2 separate regions of the Homo sapiens genome follow, and region 1 is linked to region 2. The links come from fine-mapping of genetic effects on gene expression. Tissue or cell type: tibial artery. Region 2 holds a variant in brackets; the other region holds the start of a gene. All regions are shown on one strand. Distances are between the middles of the regions.

Region 1 (4,364 bases), 69 kb after region 2:
GTGAGACAGGAGAATTGCTTGAGCCCGGGAGGCAGAGATTGCAATGAGCTGAGGTTGTGCCATTGCACTCCAGTCTGGGCAAAAAAGAGCAACACTCCGTCTCTCACACACAGACACAAAATTAGCCGGGTGTGGTGGTACATGCCTGTAGTCCCAACTACTCGGGAGGCTGAGGCAGGAGAATCGCTTGAACCTGGGAGGCAGAGGTTGCAATGAGCTGAGATCACGCCACTGCACTCCATCCTGGTGACAGAGCAAGACTCAGTCTCAAAACAAAAACGAAAACTTTGCCAGGTGTGGTGCTGAGCACCTGTAGTCCCAGCTACTCAGGAGACTGACAGGAGGGGATCACTTGAGCCCAGGAGGTCGAGGCTGCAGTGAGTGGTGATTGTGCCACTGCACTCCAGCCTGGGCGACAGAGAGATCTTGCCTCACACAAAACAAAACAAACAACAAAAAATACACAAAACAGCCAGGAGACAGCACCAGCAGGGACCCGCAGGGCACCACTGTGTCCCCACTGTGGTCAGGCCTAGGAGTGGGGCCGAAGCCCAAGTAGCCCCATCCACAACCGCGGAGCGGCTGGGAGGGCCGGGTGGGAGGACTACCGTGTGCAGGGGTGGGCCCATGGCCCTGGGCCCACCATGACTTAGGTCAGTAGGGCACTGAGGGAGCCTGTGCCGAGACTAGGTGTTGCTACTGGGCACTAGATTTTTAAAATAACTGCTTTAATGAGACATAATTGTGTAATTCCCATACCATACAATTCATCCATTTAAAGTGTGCAATTCTGTGGGTCTTAGCATATTCAGAGGTATGCAAACATCACCAACGGCCAATATCAAAACACTTCCTCACCCCAGAAAGAAACCCCAAACCAGCAACCGTCGCTCCCAACCCCCGTCCCGGGCACCGGCAGCGCCATCTCCCTTCTTCCCTCTGGACGTGCCCATTCGGGACACATCACGTGAGCAGGATCACGCCGTCCGCTCCGTGTGCCTGGCTTTTCACTTAGCATGATGTCTCCAAGTCTGTGTCGCCCGTCTGTGTCGCCCAGTGCATCAGGGTCTCATTCCTTTTGACCGTGGGCGCCGTTCTACGGCCTGGATTCCAGTGCCTGGACTGGCCATGTTTAGTCTATGCACGCCTCAGTGGATGGACAGGGTTTCCACCTTGCCGCTATGGCGAAGGATGCTGCCGCTATGGCGAAGGATGCTGCCGCTATGGTGAAGGATGCTGCCGCTTTGGCGAAGGATGCTGCCGCTATGGCGAAGGATGATGCCGCTGTGACGACAGCTGCTGCCGCTGTGGCGAAGGATGCTGCCGCTGTGACGACGGATGCTGCCGCTATGATGAAGGATGATGCCGCTGTGACGACGGATGCTGCCACTATGGCGAAGGATGCTGCCGTGAACTTTGGTGCACAGGCATCTGTTTGCGTCTTTGCTTTCAATTCCTGTGGGTGGAGCTAGGAGTGGAATTGCTGGGTCACACGGTAACTCTTGGAGGAGCTGCCAGGCTTATTCCAGAGGGCCGCACGGGTTGACATTCCCACCAGCATTGCACAAATGTTCCAGTGACTCCACGTGCCCCCCGCGCTGGTTATTCACCTTTAGTAATACGACCATCTTTGTCAGTGTGCAGTATCTCTCTGTGGATTCCATTTGCATTTCCTTGATGACTAAGGGTGTTGAGCATCTTTGCATTTGCTTGAGGGCAATTTCTACATTTTGTACATCTTTGGAAGATCTGCCCAGACCCTTCGGCACAGGCCCAAAGTTGTTTGTTTGCTTGTTTGTTTTTGAGACGGAGTCTCACTCTGTCGCCCAGGCTGGAGTACAATGGCATGATCTCGGCTCACTGCAACCTACACCTCCCAGGTTCAAGCGATTCTCTTGCCTCAGCCTCCCAGGTAGCTGGGATCACAGGCATGCGCCACCACGCCGGGCTAATTTTGTATTTTTAGTAGAGACGGGGTTTCACCATGTTGGTCAGTCTGGTCTTGAACTCCCGACCTCAGGTGATCCGCCCGGGCACAGGCTCAGAGTTTTAAGAAAAACCACAAAGTGCTATGAAGTTTGAGGCTACCAGGATGGGGCGCCAAGCCAAGGTTCCTCCGGACGCGCGAGGCTGGTGCTCCAGGCGGGCTGGCGGGAAGAGGGGGCAGGAAGGGGGCCGGGGCGGGCTCTCCGGGACGGTTCCGGGAGGGCGTCCTGGGCGGGCCCTGCGTCAGGTTGCAGTTTCACTTTTAGCTCTGGGCACCTCCAGCTCCTGCTCGCCGGACGGCTCCCAGGGAGAGCAGACGCGCCAGACGCGCCACCCTCGGGGCGCCGACGGTCACGGTGAGCTGCGCCCCGCCCCCTCCCCCGGCCTGGCTGGAGCTCCCGAGTGGGGCCGGCCGCTGGCTCCCGGGTGGGGGATGCTGGCCCTGCTGCCCCAGCGTTCGCCCAGAAGGCCCCGCGCCGCACACGGGGGCGGAAGCTCCAGGCTTCGGGAAAGGCTGCCCCTGGCCAGCCCAGGGGCCCGGCCTTTGGACCTGGGCTTGGGCTTGACTCCCAGGTCCGCCATCCAGGTTCCCGGGCCGGTGCTGTTCCCGCCCCCAGCTGCCTTCTGGGCCCAGCCTCCACTTTCAGCAGACCCAGCACTCAGAGGCTTCCTGGGGCAGCTGCAGCCCCTCCACAGTGGCCCAGGTGCCCCCTATCCCAGCGGAGGCCCGCTATGGCCTCTGACCCCCAAAGCCTCAGCCTTGGACAGGTGGCTCATGGAGCTCCAGGCACAGAGAAGGCCCTGGAGGACGCAGCTGGGGTGGGGCGACACTCTGGCTGGGTTTTGCAGTGGGTCCCTGGTGACACTCTGGCTGGGTTTTGCAGTGGGTCCCTGCACCACGCTCAGGAGGTGACAGCTTGTTTCCTCCCAGCCAGAGGCAGCCATTCTAGTGGACAGAGCCCTCTGTGTTAGAGCAGGTCTGGGCGTCAGGCCTCACTGTCCCTGGCTGGAGGTGCTCATGGTACCGTAGACAACAGGGAGAACACTGTAATTCTGTGTTGGGGAGGGCCGGGGACAGAAGCTTTCTGCTAGTGGGAGCATCCCAGGATGAGCTGGGCAGGGCTGTTCTGGAGGGAAGGAGTCCCCCATCATGGGAGACATCCAAGTACTGACCCTTCTCCCACTCCCTCCCGCCCGCCCCGAGAGCACAATGCCTGACCCATTTCCCCTCCTCAGGAGCATGGGGTCGGCCTTTGAGCGGGTAGTCCGGAGAGTGGTCCAGGAGCTGGACCATGGTGGGGAGTTCATCCCTGTGACCAGCCTGCAGAGCTCCACTGGCTTCCAGCCCTACTGCCTGGTGGTTAGGAAGCCCTCAAGCTCATGGTTCTGGAAACCCCGTTATAAGTGTGTCAACCTGTCTATCAAGGACATCCTGGAGCCGGATGCCGCGGAACCAGGTGCCTGATGTGGTGCTGAGGCAGAGCCCCAGGGAGGCTGGATGGGAGAGGGGAGCGGGCTGGGGCCAACCATCCACTGGGCTCTGCAGCCTCTAGCTCTGGGCCTCTCTTCCAGAGGCCGGGGCCTTTCCAAAGGTCCCTCTGCCCTGGGGCTGGGACAGGGCTGGTGGGGGCGGGGGAGAGGCGGGGCGCTGGGCACAGCCTCAGGTCTGGCCTTGCTTTAGACGTGCAGCGTGGCAGGAGCTTCCACTTCTACGATGCCATGGATGGGCAGATACAGGGCAGCGTGGAGCTGGCAGCCCCAGGACAGGCAAAGATCGCAGGCGGGGCCGCGGTGTCTGACAGCTCCAGCACCTCAATGAATGTGTACTCGCTGAGTGTGGACCCTAACACCTGGCAGACTCTGCTCCATGAGAGGTGGGCCCGAAGAGGGCAGGGCAGGGCAGGGCCCCACCTACCCCAAGCAACCCTGCTTTTATTTATTTATTTATTTAAATTATTTTTTGAGGTGAGGTTTTGCTATCTCGGCCAGGGTGGTCTTGAACTCCTGGCCTCAAGCAGTCCTCCTGCCTCGGCCTCCCAAAGTGCTGGGATTACAGGGGTGAGCCACTGTGCCAGGTCCCAGCCTTGCTCTTGGGAAGGTCACAACCTTGGGGCATCAGGAAAGTCCCAGAGGCAAAAGAGCGCTGTGGCCGGAACCAGCTTGCAGGAAGGAAGCTGCAGGGGTCATCTGGGGCCTCCGCTGCCAGGACTGGATCCTAAGGACCGGACTGAGCCCCAGGCTGCTGTGAGGACAAGGGGTGGTGTGAACACGGGGGCCCAGGTGAGGGGGCCGCACCTCGAGTCTGGACTTGGAGTCCCCGAGTCCACCTTTCCTCATGGGGTCCCGTCCCCGTGGGGAGCACACGGAGAGGCTGCCGG
Region 2 (4,373 bases):
TACACGACCCCACCACCACGAAGCTCAGACACAGAACAGCACCCGCTACACGGCCCCACCACCACGAAGCTCAGACACAGAACAGCACCCGCTACACGGCCCCACCACCACGAAGCTCAGACACAGAACAGCACCCGCTACACGGCCCCACCACCACGAAGCTCACACACAGAACAGCACCCGCTACACGGCCCCACCACCACGAAGCTCACACACAGAACAGCACCCGCTACACGGCCCCACCACCACGAAGCTCAGACACACAACAGCACCCGCTACACGGCCCCATCACCACGAAGCTCACACACAGAACAGCACCCGCTACACGGCCCCATCACCACGAAGCTCACACACAGAACAGCACCCGCTACACGGCCCCACCACCACGAAGCTCACACACAGAACAGCACCCGCTACACGGCCCCACCACCACGAAGCTCAGACACAGAACAGCACCCGCTACACGGCCCCATCACCACGAAGCTCACACACAGAACAGCACCCGCTACACGGCCCCATCACCACGAAGCTCACACACAGAACAGCACCCGCTACACGGCCCCACCACCACGAAGCTCAGACACAGAACAGCACCCGCTACACGACCCCACCACCACGAAGCTCACACACAGAACAGCACCCGCTACACGACCCCATCACCACGAAGCTCACACACAGAACAGCACCCGCTACACTGCCCCATCACCACGAAGCTCAGACACAGAACAGCACCCGCTACACGGCCCCATCACCACGAAGCTCAGACACAGAACAGCACCCGCTACACGGCCCCATCACCACGAAGCTCAGACACAGAACAGCACCCGCTCCACGGCCCCATCACCACGAAGCTCACACACAGAACAGCACCCGCTCCACGACCCCATCACCACGAAGCTCACACACAGAACAGCACCCGCTACACAGCCCCATCACCACGAAGCTCAGACACAGAACAGCACCCGCTACACGGCCCCATCACCACGAAGCTCAGACACAGAACAGCACCCGCTACACGGCCCCATCACCACGAAGCTCACACACAGAACAGCACCCGCTACACGGCCCCATCACCACGAAGCTCACACACAGAACAGCACCCGCTCCACGACCCCATCACCACGAAGCTCACACACAGAACAGCACCCGCTCCACGACCCCATCACCACGAAGCTCACACACAGAACAGCACCCGCTACACAGCCCCATCACCACGAAGCTCAGACACAGAACAGCACCCGCTACACGGCCCCATCACCACGAAGCTCAGACACAGAACAGCACCCGCTACACGGCCCCATCACCACGAAGCTCACACACAGAACAGCACCCGCTACACGGCCCCATCACCACGAAGCTCACACACAGAACAGCACCCGCTACACGGCCCCATCACCACGAAGCTCACACACAGAACAGCACCCGCTCCACGACCCCATCACCACGAAGCTCAGACACAGAACAGCACCCGCTACACGGCCCCATCACCACGAAGCTCAGACACAGAACAGCACCCGCTACACGGCCCCATCACCACGAAGTTCAGGAACAGGCAAAGCCAATCAAGGTAGGCAGAGAGCAGAAAAGCAGGTGCTCATGGGGTAGACATGAGTGGGAAGAGCCAGAGGGAAGCTTCCAGAACTCATGCCATCTTAGGTAGGAAAGGCTGTTCTCAGCACATCAATACATGAAATCTCAAGAGACTGGCAGATTTAAGTGCACAGAAAAGTAAAAACTTCTGCAAACATCCTCACGAAATTCAAAGCGAGGAAAATGACAAAAAGGCGACTCCCCCTGAACACTTGGAGTTCCATGAATCCATAAGAAACAAGCCAGCTGGAGACAAGCGAATAGGGAACACAAACCATGTTGAACTTGACCAAGAATTAAAGTTAAGCCTGGATGGCACCCTCCTCAGATCCGCTGTCCATGTTTCTGCCCGTGGCTGCTGACGCTGACGAGGCCCGGAAGGGCCAGCAGTCATGCCCCCTCTGTCCCCCAAGCCAGTGGCAGCGCTGACCCCCAGGACTGTTCATCCAGATGAAGGCGCTTCTCTGGGAAGGGCCTAAGACCAGCAATGAGAGGAGTGAGGTGGGGCCTGGGTGGGGATCAGCTTGTGTCTACCTGGCCAAATGTCATTGCCTGCAGGGAGCCTTCCAGGCTGCAGACACCAGAGAAAGGTTGGAGCTGGGTCTGGTACCTATGCCCTAACTGAATCCTATCCTTGCTCTGCCACTCTCCATGACTGCTAGTACCCACTGGGCAGGGGACGCCCCAGGTGGGAAGGGCTCAGCCAGGGCCTGGTTCCAAGAAGCTGGGTAGGGTGGGGTGGGGGAGTCCTGGAGGACAAGCAGCCAATGGAAAGGAGGGAGCTGGGGCCCCTCAGCCAACCTTTGGGGGGATGCGCCCTCCCACCGCGGCTGGGCCACGGAGCCCCGCCCACCACCGCCTGGCCCCGCCCACCGCCCTGGCCAGGGGAGAGGGGCCAGGGGAGGAGCTGGCTGGAAGCAGCCTC[C/G]GCAGGCAAGGGGGCGCCTTGCCCCTGTCCCGCCCCAGGACCGCCCCAGGCAAGCCAGAGCACTGAGGGTACTGAGCTGGGCCATAATTTATGCCCGCCCGCCTATGCTTTATGGCTTTCTTAATTCGGCTCCTGCTACTATTAATGTAGTTAATGCTGAGATTATATCTATTTTCTGGCGTCAGGCGGTGATTTATTCAAGCCATTTTTCCGGTGGAGGCTCCCACGCTGTTAAATCAAGCGCCTTGCCAATTAAGTGCTGACTTGGGAAGTGGACGCAATCTTAGCAGACGTCCAACCGCAAATTAAACCGCGCCTGACTCTGGGGAGTGGACGGGGCAGCGGGACCCTTGCTGACTTGCAGGAAAGTCAGGAAAGTGGTGGGTGCATCCTACCCACTGTGGTCCCTGGGCCGGTCCCTGGGCCTGTCCCTGAGCCACGGGTCTCTGGAACTGCAGCCCACACCCACACTCCAGGCCACAGGGTTCCAGGGAAACACCCTTAGACACCCGTGGTTCCTAAACCACGCCCAGCAAGCACCTGACACACAGGGCCCTGGCAGGTACTGGGGATGGGGCAGGGGCGGCGGGGGTGAAGGGGGCCATGAGGAAGGTGGGAGCCTCCCCAGCAGGTGGGTGGGGCTGCACAGTGCTCAGCAGCTGGGAGGCCCCCCGGGGCCTGGACCCTGCAGGAGTCTCACCCACGGTCCCATCTCTGAGGGCCCACATAGCAATACAATAGAAAGGAGGTAGGGAGGCCAGGGTTGGGGGCAGCCAGGCTAAGGACTCCCACCCCCAACAGGCCCAGCTCTCCTGAACACTCCTGTCCCCTGTGGGGGCCTCAGTCCTCTGTCAGGCACTGTCCACATGCCAACTGCAGTGACCACCCAGGCCCAGCCCAGAGACCACCCGGGCCCAGCCCAGAGAACCTGCTGTCACCCTCCTCCCCAGTGGGGCCCTGGGACAAGGTAGGCAGATGTGCCACCCTTGTCCATCTGCCAGATACTCAGCCCAGCCTTGAGAGGTTAATCATGTTTTGGGGTGAGATCTGGCTGGAGGATTGATATATTCGAGAAGTTAAATAAGATACTGATGGCCGGGTGCAGTGGCTCATGCCTGTAATCCCAGCACTTTGGGAGGCCAAGGCAGGCGGATCACTTGAGGTCAGGAGTTTGAAACCAGCCTGGCCAACATGGTGAAACCCTGTCTCTACTAAAAATACAAAAATTAGCCATGAGTGGTGGTAGGTGCCTGTAATCCCAGCTACTCCGGAGGCTGAAGTGGGAGAATTGCTTGAGCCCAAGAGGCAGAGCCTGCAGTGAGCTGAGATTGCACTCCAGCCTAGGTGACAAAGCAAGACTCCGTCTCAAAATAAATAAACAAATAAATATTGACTATGTAAATGATACTTTACGACCACCTCTAAAACCAAGGTAAAGTGGTATTTAAAACGGCGGCACCCAGGTAGCGCCGGGTGACAAGGACATTTTATTTCTTCCTGTCAGGGGTGGTTTTTCAGTTTCCAGGAATGTCCATGCTTGCCCCTCCCTCCAGGGAGCCCAGGCACCAACTGGCAGACACACACATATCCACGGCTGGGCAGATGGGGCAGGAGGGCCCAGGCACAGGGGGCTCCGCCCTCCCCGGCCTGAGGGGAATTCCACGGATCCCACAGGAACCCCCGGGGGGCCCTTGAGCTCCCTCCCCGAAGGTCCTTGTGCAAACTGAAGGAAGGCTCCCTCCAGATTTGTCACCAGACACTCCCTGCAGCCTGTCCCTGCGATGCCACTGCCGGCCCACACGGAACCACGCTGTGGCCTGCGGTTCCGCCAAGGTGGCAGCAGCATCTCACCAGGGAG

What was found. PIP is the estimated chance that this variant, and not a neighbour inherited with it, causes the effect. A credible set is the group of variants that fine-mapping cannot tell apart.
Region 1: it holds the start of GSDMD, and the variant in region 2 is the best candidate, but not a certain one, in a credible set for the expression of GSDMD in tibial artery (GTEx, PIP 0.56).

Annotation. Positions count from the first base shown.
Region 1 is chr8:143,556,110-143,560,473 of GRCh38, forward strand. GSDMD (gasdermin D) reads left to right here and starts at 2,237. Exons shown (of 11, transcript NM_024736.7): 1 at 2,237-2,342; 2 at 3,223-3,443; 3 at 3,668-3,860. The coding sequence starts at 3,227. It overlaps LOC100310756 (a long non-coding RNA gene), which reads right to left and starts at 2,162. Exons shown (of 1, transcript NR_147504.1): 1 at 710-2,162. RefSeq lists an enhancer at 2,052-2,693.
Region 2 is chr8:143,487,025-143,491,397 of GRCh38, forward strand. The region is part of intron 4 of ZC3H3 (zinc finger CCCH-type containing 3); the gene reads right to left. Among named protein-coding and RNA genes, the nearest start is that of SNORD149, 17 kb to the right of the region's middle. RefSeq lists enhancers at 756-1,293, 1,294-1,830. The variant C/G (reference allele first, on the strand shown) is at 2,516.